2 separate regions of the Homo sapiens genome follow, and region 2 is linked to region 1. Evidence: fine-mapped expression QTL. A gene starts in region 1. The other region holds a variant in brackets. All regions are shown on one strand. Distances are between the middles of the regions.

Region 1 (5,374 bases):
GGTGGCTCATGCCTGTAATCCCAGCACTTTGGGAGGCTGAGGCGGGCGGATCACCTGAGTTCAGGAGTTGGAGACCAGCCTGACCAACAAGGAGAAACCCCGTCTCTACTAAAAATACAAAACTAGCCAGTCATGGGGGAGTGCCTGTAATCCCAGGTACTCTGGAGGCTGAGGCAAGAGAATCGCTTGAACCCGGGAGGTGGAGGTTGCGGTAAGCCAAGATCGCACCATTGCACTCCTGCCTGGGCAACAAGAGTGAAACTCCATCTCAAAAAAAAAAAAAAAAAAAAAAAAAGCCAAATATGAGTTTCTAATTCTTGAAGAGGAGAAGACAGGAGGAAAAGAGGAAAGACATAAATGAAGGTAAAGTTAAACAATACAAAATATTTAAATAACAGCTCAAGAGGACAAATATTATGAAACAATGCATATATGGACAATTTTTTTTTTAGAGACGGAGTTTCGCTCTTGTTGCCCAGGCTGTAGCGCAATGGTGTGATCTCAGCTCACTGCAACCTCCAACTCCCAGGTTCAAGTGTTTCTCCTGCCTCAGCCTCCCAAGTAGCTGGGATTACAGTACCCACCACCATGCCCAGCTAATTTTTGTATTTTTTAGTAGAGACAGGGTTTCACCCTGTTGGCCAGGGTGGTCCTGAACTCCTGACTGTTGGAAACAAGCCCCCCCCAAAATCTGGCCATAAACTGGCCCCAAAACTGGCCATAAACAAAATCTCTGCAGCACTGTGACATATTCATGATGGCCATAATGCCCCGCTGGAAGGTTGTGGGTTTACTGGAATGAGGGCAAGGAACACCTGGCCCACCCAGGGCGGAAAACCGCTTAAAGGCGTTCTTAAACCACAAACAATAGCATGAGCGATCTGTGCCTTAAGGACATGCTCCTGCTGCAGATAACTAGCCCAACCCATCCCTTTATCTCTGCCCATCCCTTTGTTTCCCATAAGGGATACTTTCAGTTAATCTAATATCTATAGAAACAATGCTAATGACTGGCTTGCTGTTGGGTAAATCTCTGTTCCTGGCTCTCAGCTCTGAAGGCTGTGAGACCCCTGATTTCCCACTTCACATCTCTATATTTCTGTGTGTCTTTAATTCCTCTAGTGCCGCTGGGTTAGGGTCTCCCCGACCGAGCTGCTCTCAGCACCTGACTTCAGGTAATCCACCCGTCTCGGCCTCCCAAAGTGCTAGGATTACAGGCATGAGTCACCGCGCCCGGTCTTATGGCCAATTTCTTTTTCTTTTCTTTTTTTTTTTTTTTTGAGATGGAGTCTCGCTCTGTCACCCAGGCTGGAGTGCAGTGGCGCGATCTCGGCTCACTGCAAGCTCCGCCTCCCGGGTTCACGCCATTCTCCTCCCTCAGCCTCCCGAGTAGCTGGGACTACAGGCACCTGCCACCACGCCCGGCTAATTTTTTATGTTTTAAGTAGAGATGGGGTTTCACCGTGTTAGGCAGGATGGTCTCGATCTCCTGACCTCTTGATCCGCCCGCTTCAGCCTCCCAAAGTACTGGGATTGCAGGCGTGAGCCACCGCGCGCGGCTAATGGCCAATTTTTAACTGCTCACTGAACTATGCAGCTGGATGTTGCTTTAAGAATTTAGAGGAGGTCGGGTCTGTTGGCTCACGCCTGTAATCCCTGCACTTTGGGAGGTCAAGGCAGGCCGACAGCTTGGGCCCAGGAGTTCAAGACCAGACTGAGCAACATGGCAGAATCAGCTAAGTGTGCTGGTGCCTGCCTGTGATCCCAGCTGCTCAAGAGACTGAGATGGGAAGATCACTTGAGCCTTGGAGTTGGAGGCTACAGTGAGTCGTGATCGCACCACTGCACACCAGCCTGGGCGACAGAGTGAGACTGTCTCAAAAATAAATAACTTAAAAGAAAATCTCCCTTCGTCTAAATCCTGTCTACTTCCAAGACACACACACACACACACACACACACACACACACACACACACACACACACACACACACACAAAATCTTGGCCGGACGTGGTGGCTCACGCCTGTAATCCCAGCACTTTGGGAAGCCGAGGCGGGCGGATCAACTAAGGTTGGGAGTTCAAGATGAGCCTGACCAACATGGAGAAACCACGTCTTTACTAAAAATACAAAATTAGCTGGGCGCGGTGGCGCATGCCTGTAATCCCAGTTACTTGGGAGGCTGAGGAAGGAGAATCGCTTGAACCCGGGAGGCGGAGGTTGCAGTGAGCCGAAATCACACCATTGCACTGCAGCCTGGGCAATAAGAGCGAAACTCCGTCTCAAAAATAAATAAAGAAATAAAAGCTGAATCACAACATCTTCCTCTGAAGTGTTGTTGTGACGTTAAAAATGAGATAATAGGCTGGGTGGGTCACGCCTTGTAATCCCAGTACTTTGGGAGGCCCATCACTTTGAGACTAGGAGTCCGAGATCAGCCTGGGTAACATGGCTGAGATAACGACTATAAAGTGAATGGCACATAGTAAGTGGTTAGCTAATGTTTGACTCAGCCCCACTCTTCAGTGATCCTTGTGGGCATTTCTTCACAAAGTTGCAAGGTATTTCTGTAGTCCTCTCTCCAGTATTTTTCAGTATTTGTTCTAGCACACACTAGGTCTTCCACAAAAATGATTGAATGAAAACTCCTGGCAGCGGGAAAGCGGGGTGGGGATGTGGGGAGGGGCACCCCAACACAAACACACAGAAAATGCTACTACAGAACATCGGTTACTGGGCAGCGGTACATTTCAGAACCCCTAGGGTGCCCTCACATCCTGCCTGGCTGGCCTGCTTCAAACGGTTCATTTAACCAAGGTCATACTAAAATGTTGGCTGCTACTAAAATCCAGGAACCTTCACTTTTCCCAGATAAGAGAGACAGTTGCTCTATTAGTATGGGCAGCGGTAGGCCCAAAAGATCCCGCCTTCCTCCACAGGGCGAGCCTATCAGCGCTCCTCCAGCGATGAACGACAGCTCTCCAGGAGCCAATGAGTTCCTCCCCCTGGAAGGAACCCGCCCATCCCTTGTGTCGTCACTAGATCTCTTAAAAAGATGGACCCTCAGCGGCGCTTCCTCGTAGCGAGCCTAGTGGCGGGTGTTTGCATTGAAACGTGAGCGCGACCCGACCTTAAAGAGTGGGGAGCAAAGGGAGGACAGAGCCCTTTAAAACGAGGCGGGTGGTGCCTGCCCCTTTAAGGGCGGGGCGTCCGGACGACTGTATCTGAGCCCCAGACTGCCCCGAGTTTCTGTCGCAGGCTGCGAGGAAAGGCCCCTAGGCTGGGTCTGGGTGCTTGGCGGCGGCGGCTTCCTCCCCGCTCGTCCTCCCCGGGCCCAGAGGCACCTCGGCTTCAGTCATGCTGAGCAGAGTATGGAAGCACCTGACTACGAAGTGCTATCCGTGCGAGAACAGCTATTCCACGAGAGGATCCGCGAGTGTATTGTGAGTGCGGGGCCCCGGCGAGGAGAAGCGGGGGTTGCGGGAGACGGGGAGGTTGGGGTCCGAGCCCACCTGGTCTCAGAGTGCCGTCAAACCATGCCTGGGCCAGCGGCGGGCGACGGAGGCCTCCGTCCGGGCAGAAGGGCGGGTGCCCGGCTAGCGATCCCCTAGATGGGATCAGCTGGGTCCCTGAGCGATAAACAAAGGCCGTCGTTTCCGTTCCTCCCCCACACGCCCCTCCCCTGCCCCTCCCTCCCACCCCTCACCCAGCGCGTCTTCCTGTTGGGGGTCTCCGGGGTCTGAGAGCCTGCGGAGTCTGCCTTAGTCTGATAATCGGGGAAGGATGGGTTTGCTTCTCAAACTGGGTTGAGGGCAAACTCAGCTGACGTTGGATGAAGGGGAGACGTCGTCACACTGAGCTTGATTCCAGAAAAGAGGGGAGGTGTAGGGATGGCAGACGGGAGGAACCTGGGGACTTGGTGGGTCATCTGCTTTGGAAGAAAGGAGTCTTGCTGGGGTGGATCCTAATATGTAGAGATGAGGAACAACCAAGTATTCCCCCGTCTTTTTTCTTTCTCATTGGTGTTTGTTTGAAACCCTGCAAGGCTGGGTTCCCAGCCTCTCAGCCATTCCGGGGTTTCCCCAGTGAGTGGTCCTCCCAGGGCTTCAGAGGGTACCTGGCTGCTGTTCCTTACGCCCTCCCTGCCACTTAGAGCGACAACTGAACCTTGCGCACAGAAGTGGACTACTCAATTCTGGGGTAGGGGTACCCAGTGGAGCTTAGGGTGTCATATCTTTCTCAGCCTTGCTTTGAATTTTCACCTCTCTCCTTTCTCCTGTGTCCTTCCCCAGAGCTCACCAGGGCAACCCTCATCTCCAGATAGTAAATGGAAAGGGAATGGTTTGGAAAAACAGAAAGAAATGTTAGTAAGTGTGGGAATCCATTGTTGGGGTCATTCCCTTCATTTTTCTCAGGCTGGGCTCTAGCCAGCCCTGGGCAGCCTGATTGGAGGAGGGGTAAATTGAGCCAGGACATAATTAGGTCTGCTCTTATCTGTGAGGACAGGAAAGTATATTAGTCTGTGTGTGCAACTCCAGTAGAAGTGTGCTTTCGGCAAGCCTTCCTTGTGTGTTTCTTGGTGGACAGTCCACATGGTGGGTTGGGCATATTGCAGAGGCACACCCAGGCCTTGAGACAGTGTCGGGCTGGAGGCTCAAATTCCTAGAGAACAGGGAGGGATGAGACCTTGGACAGAAGCAGCCTCCTGGATGTCTCCCTAATCCTTTAGTCCCATGAGCTGAGAACATCAGTGCTGGCTAAGGGTAGCCTGAAGACTTATGGTGCCTCCCCCACCTGGCTCTCATCTAGAGGCTAGAGAGCAGCCTAGCTTCTTGGAACTGCGTGGAACTCCAGCCTGACCTTTTGAGCCCTCCCACCTTCCTGGCTATTACGCAAGCCCAGAGCAGAACACAGGCTATAAAAATCTTGCAGCTACAATCTGAGTGGCTCCTTCTGTTCTGCTTCCCTAATATCAAAAGCTATGACTTTGTTCTAGATCGATGGCTCTCCTGCGTCTCTGTGGATTCTTCCCTCCTTGTACAGATAGCTGTATGTGTTTTCCTTGTGGGGTCAGCCCTTTCTGGAGACTGGAAGACCCATGAGACTGATCTTGTATTCTTGGCCTATCTCAAACACAATAACTTCTCTTCTTGAGACTCTCTGGTGTTTTTTTTGTTTTGTTTAGTTTTGTTTTTGACCTAGTCTCACTCTGTCGCCCAGGCTGGAGTGCAGTGGCGTTATCTCTGCTCACTGCAACCTCCGCCTCCCAGGTTCTAGTGATTCTTGTACCTCAGCCTCCCGAGTAGCTGGGATTACAGGCACCTGCCACCACACACGGCCTTTTTTTTTTTTTTTTTTTTTTTTTGAGACTC
Region 2 (5,374 bases), 110 kb before region 1:
AAAAATAGTTGAATTGTGTACTTTCTTTCTTTCTTTTTTTTTTTTTTTGAGAGGGAGTCTTGCTCTGTCGCCCAGGCTGGAGTGCAGTGGCGCGATCTCAGCTCACTGCAAGCTCCACCTCCCGGGTTCACACACACCATTCTCCTGCCTCAGCCTCCCGAGTAGCTGGGACTACAGGCATCTGCCACCACGCCTGGCTAATTTTTTGTACTTTTTAGTAGAGACGGGGTTTCACCGTGTTAGCCAGGATGGTCTTGATCTCCTGACCTCGTGCTCCACGTGCCTCGGCCTCCCAAAGTGCTGGGATTACAGGCATGAGCCACCGCACCCGGCGAATTGTGTACTTTCAATAGGTGAATCGCTATAGTATGTGATTTTTACCTCAACAAAGCTATTTAAAAATCTAGTGCTATTTCTTACTGGATTTTGAAAGAGAATTAAAAATTTTGGCCAGGCACAGTGGCTCACACCTGTAATCCCAGCATTTTGGGAGGTAGAGGCAAGTGGCTCACTTAAGCTCAGGAGTTCAAGACTAGCTTGGACAATGTGGTGAAACCCCATCTCTACAAAAAATACAAAAATTAACCAGGCAGGGTGGTGCACACCTGTACACGCAGCTACTCAGAGGCTGAGGTGGGAGGATGGCTTGAGCCTGGGAAGTCGAAGCTGCAATGAGCTGAGATTGTGCCACTACACTCCAGCCTGGTCAACAGAACGAACGACACTGTCTCAAAAATAAAAATAAAAAATTCACTTCCCCATTTGCCAACATTTCTCTAAAGTAGGTGAGCAGTCTTCAGCTGGGCCCTCTCCCTAACTTAGTTCTCCCTACTTGGGTCCATTTCCCTGCTCTCTGCACCCCCATCAACAGTTTAATCTGCCCAGAGCTCAACCCTGGAAGTCAGGATTCTCCTCCCTGCACCACCAGACTCTGTGCCTTTGCCAACATGGTTCCTTCCATTCAACCTGTGTGTTCAGGGCCCTGACTGCATGTCACCTCTTCAAGGGCCTTTCCTTTCCATTTCACTGGGAGTGGTCTGCCCTCCAGGGTACAAGAAGTGACATTTCAACCAAATGTTTTGATACCACACAGCAAGGCGTCATCAGTGTTCTAGTCTGGATTCTTTGGGCCTGCACCACCCACCAGTGACCCTTTTCACTAAGTTAATGCCACATTTAATTTTCCTTATTATAGCATCAAAGTCTATATTTTATTTTGTTTGTTTGCTTTTGCTTTCTTCTGCCCATTATTTGATCCTTCCCCTCTTCTTTTTCCCATCTCCTCACTTCCATTCCCCCTTCAAGCCCTTCCCTTGGTACCTGGCTAATTCTTGCTAAATATTCAGGACTCTGGAAAAATGTCATCTTTTCCAGGAAGGTTTCTCTGACACCTCCCCTCACCCCTAGGATTGTGGCTGAACTGAAGTAATGGCAAGGGAAATGTAGAGAAATAAACAAATTGGAAAAATATTAAGGAGGAAGATTTGGCAGAACTTGCTAATGTGAAATAAAGCCTAAAGATCAAACAAAATAAGCAGTGAATTTGAGATACCAATTTAGTCATTTCATGTTTTTTCAAGCTTTGTGCCATCTACAGTTTTTTTTTGTTTTTTTTTTTTTTGAGACGGATTCTTGCTCTGTCATCTGGGCTGGAGTGCAGTGGTGTGATCTCGGCTCAGTGCAACCTTTGCCTCCCGGGTTCCAGCAATTCTCCTGCCTCAGCCTCCCAAGTAGCTGGGACTAAAGGCGCATGCCACCACACCTGGCTAATTTTTGTATTTTTAGTAGAGACGAGGTTTCACCATGTTGGCCAGGCTGGTCTCGAACTCCTGACCTCGTGATCTGCCCGCCATGGCCTCCCAAAGTGCTGGGATTACAGGCGTAAGCCACCACGCCTGGCTGTCATCTACAATTTTAATAAGAAAGATAGATC[C/T]TCCTGCCAAACGTGTCTTCCTTAAACATCTGTTATAATATTGCTTTATTGATGGAGGGCCTTTTACGACTCTCTGGTTACTAATGCACCAAGCCTAAACTCTGCCTTGCTTTAAAGGCCTTCCTAGTTGGTCCAGCCCTTCCCATTGGCTCCACCCAGCTGTGGTCAGGCTGGCTGCTCCATCCTCCAGGACAAAGTCTTGCTCACTCCTGCTTGTAACGCTTTTGCCACCACCTCACCTGCAGCAGTGCATTCCCTACGCTCATCTCAGGGACCATTTAAGGCTCAACTTCAAGGTTATTCCTCATGAAAGGCTGCTTGCCTGTTCCACGCCTTCTTGTGCCCTCTGAACTTCTGAAGCATTCAATTTAGCACTTAATTATATATGCTCATCTTACATAATCTACTGTTGCTTTCATGTGTGTTAGTCACGTTTCCCTCAACTAGATTATAAATTTGTTGAGTGCGGGAACCATAATTTATACTTCTTTTTTTTTTTTTTTTGAGATGGAGTTTCGCTCTTGTTGCCCAGGCTGGAGTGCAATGGCACGATCTCGGCTCACCACAACCTCCGCCTCCAGGGTTCAAGCAATTCTCCTGCCCCAGCCTCTCGAGTAGCTAGGATTACAGGCATGTGCCACCACGCCCAGCTAATTTTGTATTTTTAGTAGCGACAGGGTTTCTCCATGTTGGTCAGGCTGGTCACAAACTCCCAACCTCAGGTGATCCACCCGCCTCGGCCTCCCAAAGTGCTGGGATTACAGGCGTGAGCCACCGCGCCCGGCCAATTTCTACTTCTTTAAGATCATACGTTCTGGAATCAGACTATGCTCAAATCCTGGCTCTCCTACTTGCTAGCTGTATGGCACTGGGCAAATGGCTTAACTTCTCTATGTCTTAGTTCCTAATTTTTTTTTCTTCTTCTCTTCTTTTCTTTTTTTTTTTTTTTTTTTTTTTTTTTTTTTGAGACAGAGTCTTGCTCTGTTGCCCAGGATGGAATGCGGTGGTGCAATCACGGCTCACTGCAACCTCCGCCTCCCGGGTTCAAGCGATTCTCCTGCCTCAGCCTCCCGAGTAGCTGGGATTACAGGCACCTGCCACCACGCCAAGCTAATTTTTGTATTTTTAGTAGACAAGGTTTCATTGTGTTGGCCAGGCTGGTCTCGAATTCCTGACCTCATGATCCACCCACCTCGGCCTCCAAAGTGCTAGGATTACAGGTGTGAGCCACCTTCCCTGGCCAGTTCCTAATATTTAAAATGGAGATAATAAAAGTATCTATCTCATAGGCCGAATGCAGTGGCTTACGCCTGTAACCCCTATGCTTTGGGAGGCCGAGGTGGGTAGATCACTTGAGCTCATGAGTTTGAGACCAGCCTGGGCAACATGGTGAAAACCTATCTCTACAAAAAAATACAACAATTAGCTAGGCGTGGTGTTGCATGCCTGTGTTCCTAGCTACTTGGGAGGCTGAGGTGGGAGGATGTCTTGAGCCCAGGAGGCAGAGGTTGCAGTGAGCCTAGATCGTGCCACTGCACTCCAGCCTGGACGATACAGCCAGACCCTGTCCAAAAAAAAAAAAAAAAGAAGAAGACCTATCTCATAGGAGTGGCCATAGGCCTTAATGAGGCAACTCATGTACAGAGCCCAACAGACAGCTAGCAAATTCTAAGAACTCAATAAACATTAGTTAGTATTATTATCTCCCACATTGCTTACATGTCATCAAACACTGAGTGGATGCTTAACAATTAATTTTTGCTGATTTAATAGGTTGCATATAAATCTCTTTTAGATGCCTAAGAGAATCAGAAACTCTTTGGTTGAGGAAAAAGAGGTGTATTTGTACAGATAATAATAATTATTTTTATTTTTATTTATTTATTTTTTGAGACGGAGTCCCGCTCTGTCGCCCAGGCTAGAGTGCAGTGGCACCATCTCAGCTCACTGCAAGCTCCGACTCCTGGGTTCATGCCATTCTCCTGCCTCAGCCTCCCAAATAGCTGGGACTACAGGTGCCTGCCACCACTCCCGGCTAATTTTTTGTATTTTTAGTAGAGACGGGGTTTCACCATGTTAACCAGGATGGTCTTGATCTCCTGACCTCGTGATCCGCCTGTCTCGGCCTCCCAAAGTGCTGGGATTACAGGCGTAAGCCACCGTGTCTAGCCAATAATAATAATTTTTAAATGTTTATTAGGACAATTTTACTTCCCAATTTTTGAGGTGCATTTCACCATTGCCCCCATGTCTTCACCTGCCTCCTGGAGCCCAGGTGAGGAATCAAGAGGATTGTCTCTCTCACTTCATAAAGACACCAGGAATGAGCATTAGAAAGCAAAATGTGAGGCAGGAGGATGGCTTGAGACCAGGAGTTTGAGGTCAGCCTGGGCAATATAGTGAAATCCCATCTCTACAAAAAATAAAAATAAAAAAAATTAACCAAGTATGGTGGCACACGCCTGCAATCCTAGATACTCTGGAGGCTGACACTGGAGGATCACTTGAGCCCAGGAGTCTGAGGTTACAGTGAGCTATGACTACATCACTGCACTCCAGCCTGAGTGACAGAGCGAGACCCTGTCTCAAAAAAACCAAAAATCCTCTTTTATGTAGTTTTCTGTTTTTGAATGCATGTGCCTCAAATAAACAAACATAAATTACTGTACTGGCCTGTTGGCAGTTGAGGCAACAAGATGTCTAGCAGAGTGCAAGACAAAAATAAAGGAGAGAAGAAGGTAATTAAAGACCTAAGGCCATACTCTAGACGCACAGTATTATTATATTTTATATTCTACCAATTACCATGCTTGCCCCTCCCCCTACTCTACAAACTAACTGGCATCAACCAGCTTATCTGGAAGACCTAAGCTTTGAGTCCCACATGGTCCCTGGACTGCATCCTGGCAAAATCCTTATTGCTCAAGTTTCTATGGAGAAAACAAATTATTGTTGTCAGGGAGGAATATGAGACTGCAGAAGCTGACACTATCTGCATGGCCATGGGAGGTATGTGGGATCTACACCAACGTAAAAGATTGTAGAGGCCAGGTGCATTGGCTGACACCTGTAATCCTAGCACTTTAGGAGGCCAAGGTGGGCGAATCACCTGAGGTTGGGAGTTCAAGACCAGCCTGGCAAGCATGGTGAAACCCCATGTCTATTAAAATACAAAAAATTAGCCAGGCATGATGGTGGGTGCCTGTAATCCCAGCTACTCAGGAGACGGGAGAATTGCTTGAACCCAGGTGATGGTGGTTGCAGTGAGCCGAGATTGCACTACTACACTCCAGCCTGGGCGGCTGAATAAGACTCCATCTCAAAAAAAAAGAAAAAAAAAAAGATTGTAGAATGTGAATTGTTCTGAAAAGAAATTCTACGGGAATATTTCTCCCCTGTTACATTTAAATATCATATTTTCCAAATGAAAGATTAAAAAAT

What was found. PIP is the estimated chance that this variant, and not a neighbour inherited with it, causes the effect. A credible set is the group of variants that fine-mapping cannot tell apart.
Region 2: its variant is the best candidate, but not a certain one, in a credible set for the expression of LMBR1L in whole blood (TOPMed, PIP 0.58).

What each region holds. Positions count from the first base shown.
Region 1 is chr12:49,108,555-49,113,928 of GRCh38, reverse strand. LMBR1L (limb development membrane protein 1 like) reads left to right here and starts at 3,082. Exons shown (of 17, transcript NM_018113.4): 1 at 3,082-3,445. The coding sequence starts at 3,374. RefSeq lists a silencer at 2,336-2,516 and an enhancer at 3,374-3,913.
Region 2 is chr12:49,216,556-49,221,929 of GRCh38, reverse strand. No RefSeq gene overlaps it. Among named protein-coding and RNA genes, the nearest start is that of TUBA1A, 30 kb to the right of the region's middle. The variant C/T (reference allele first, on the strand shown) is at 1,934.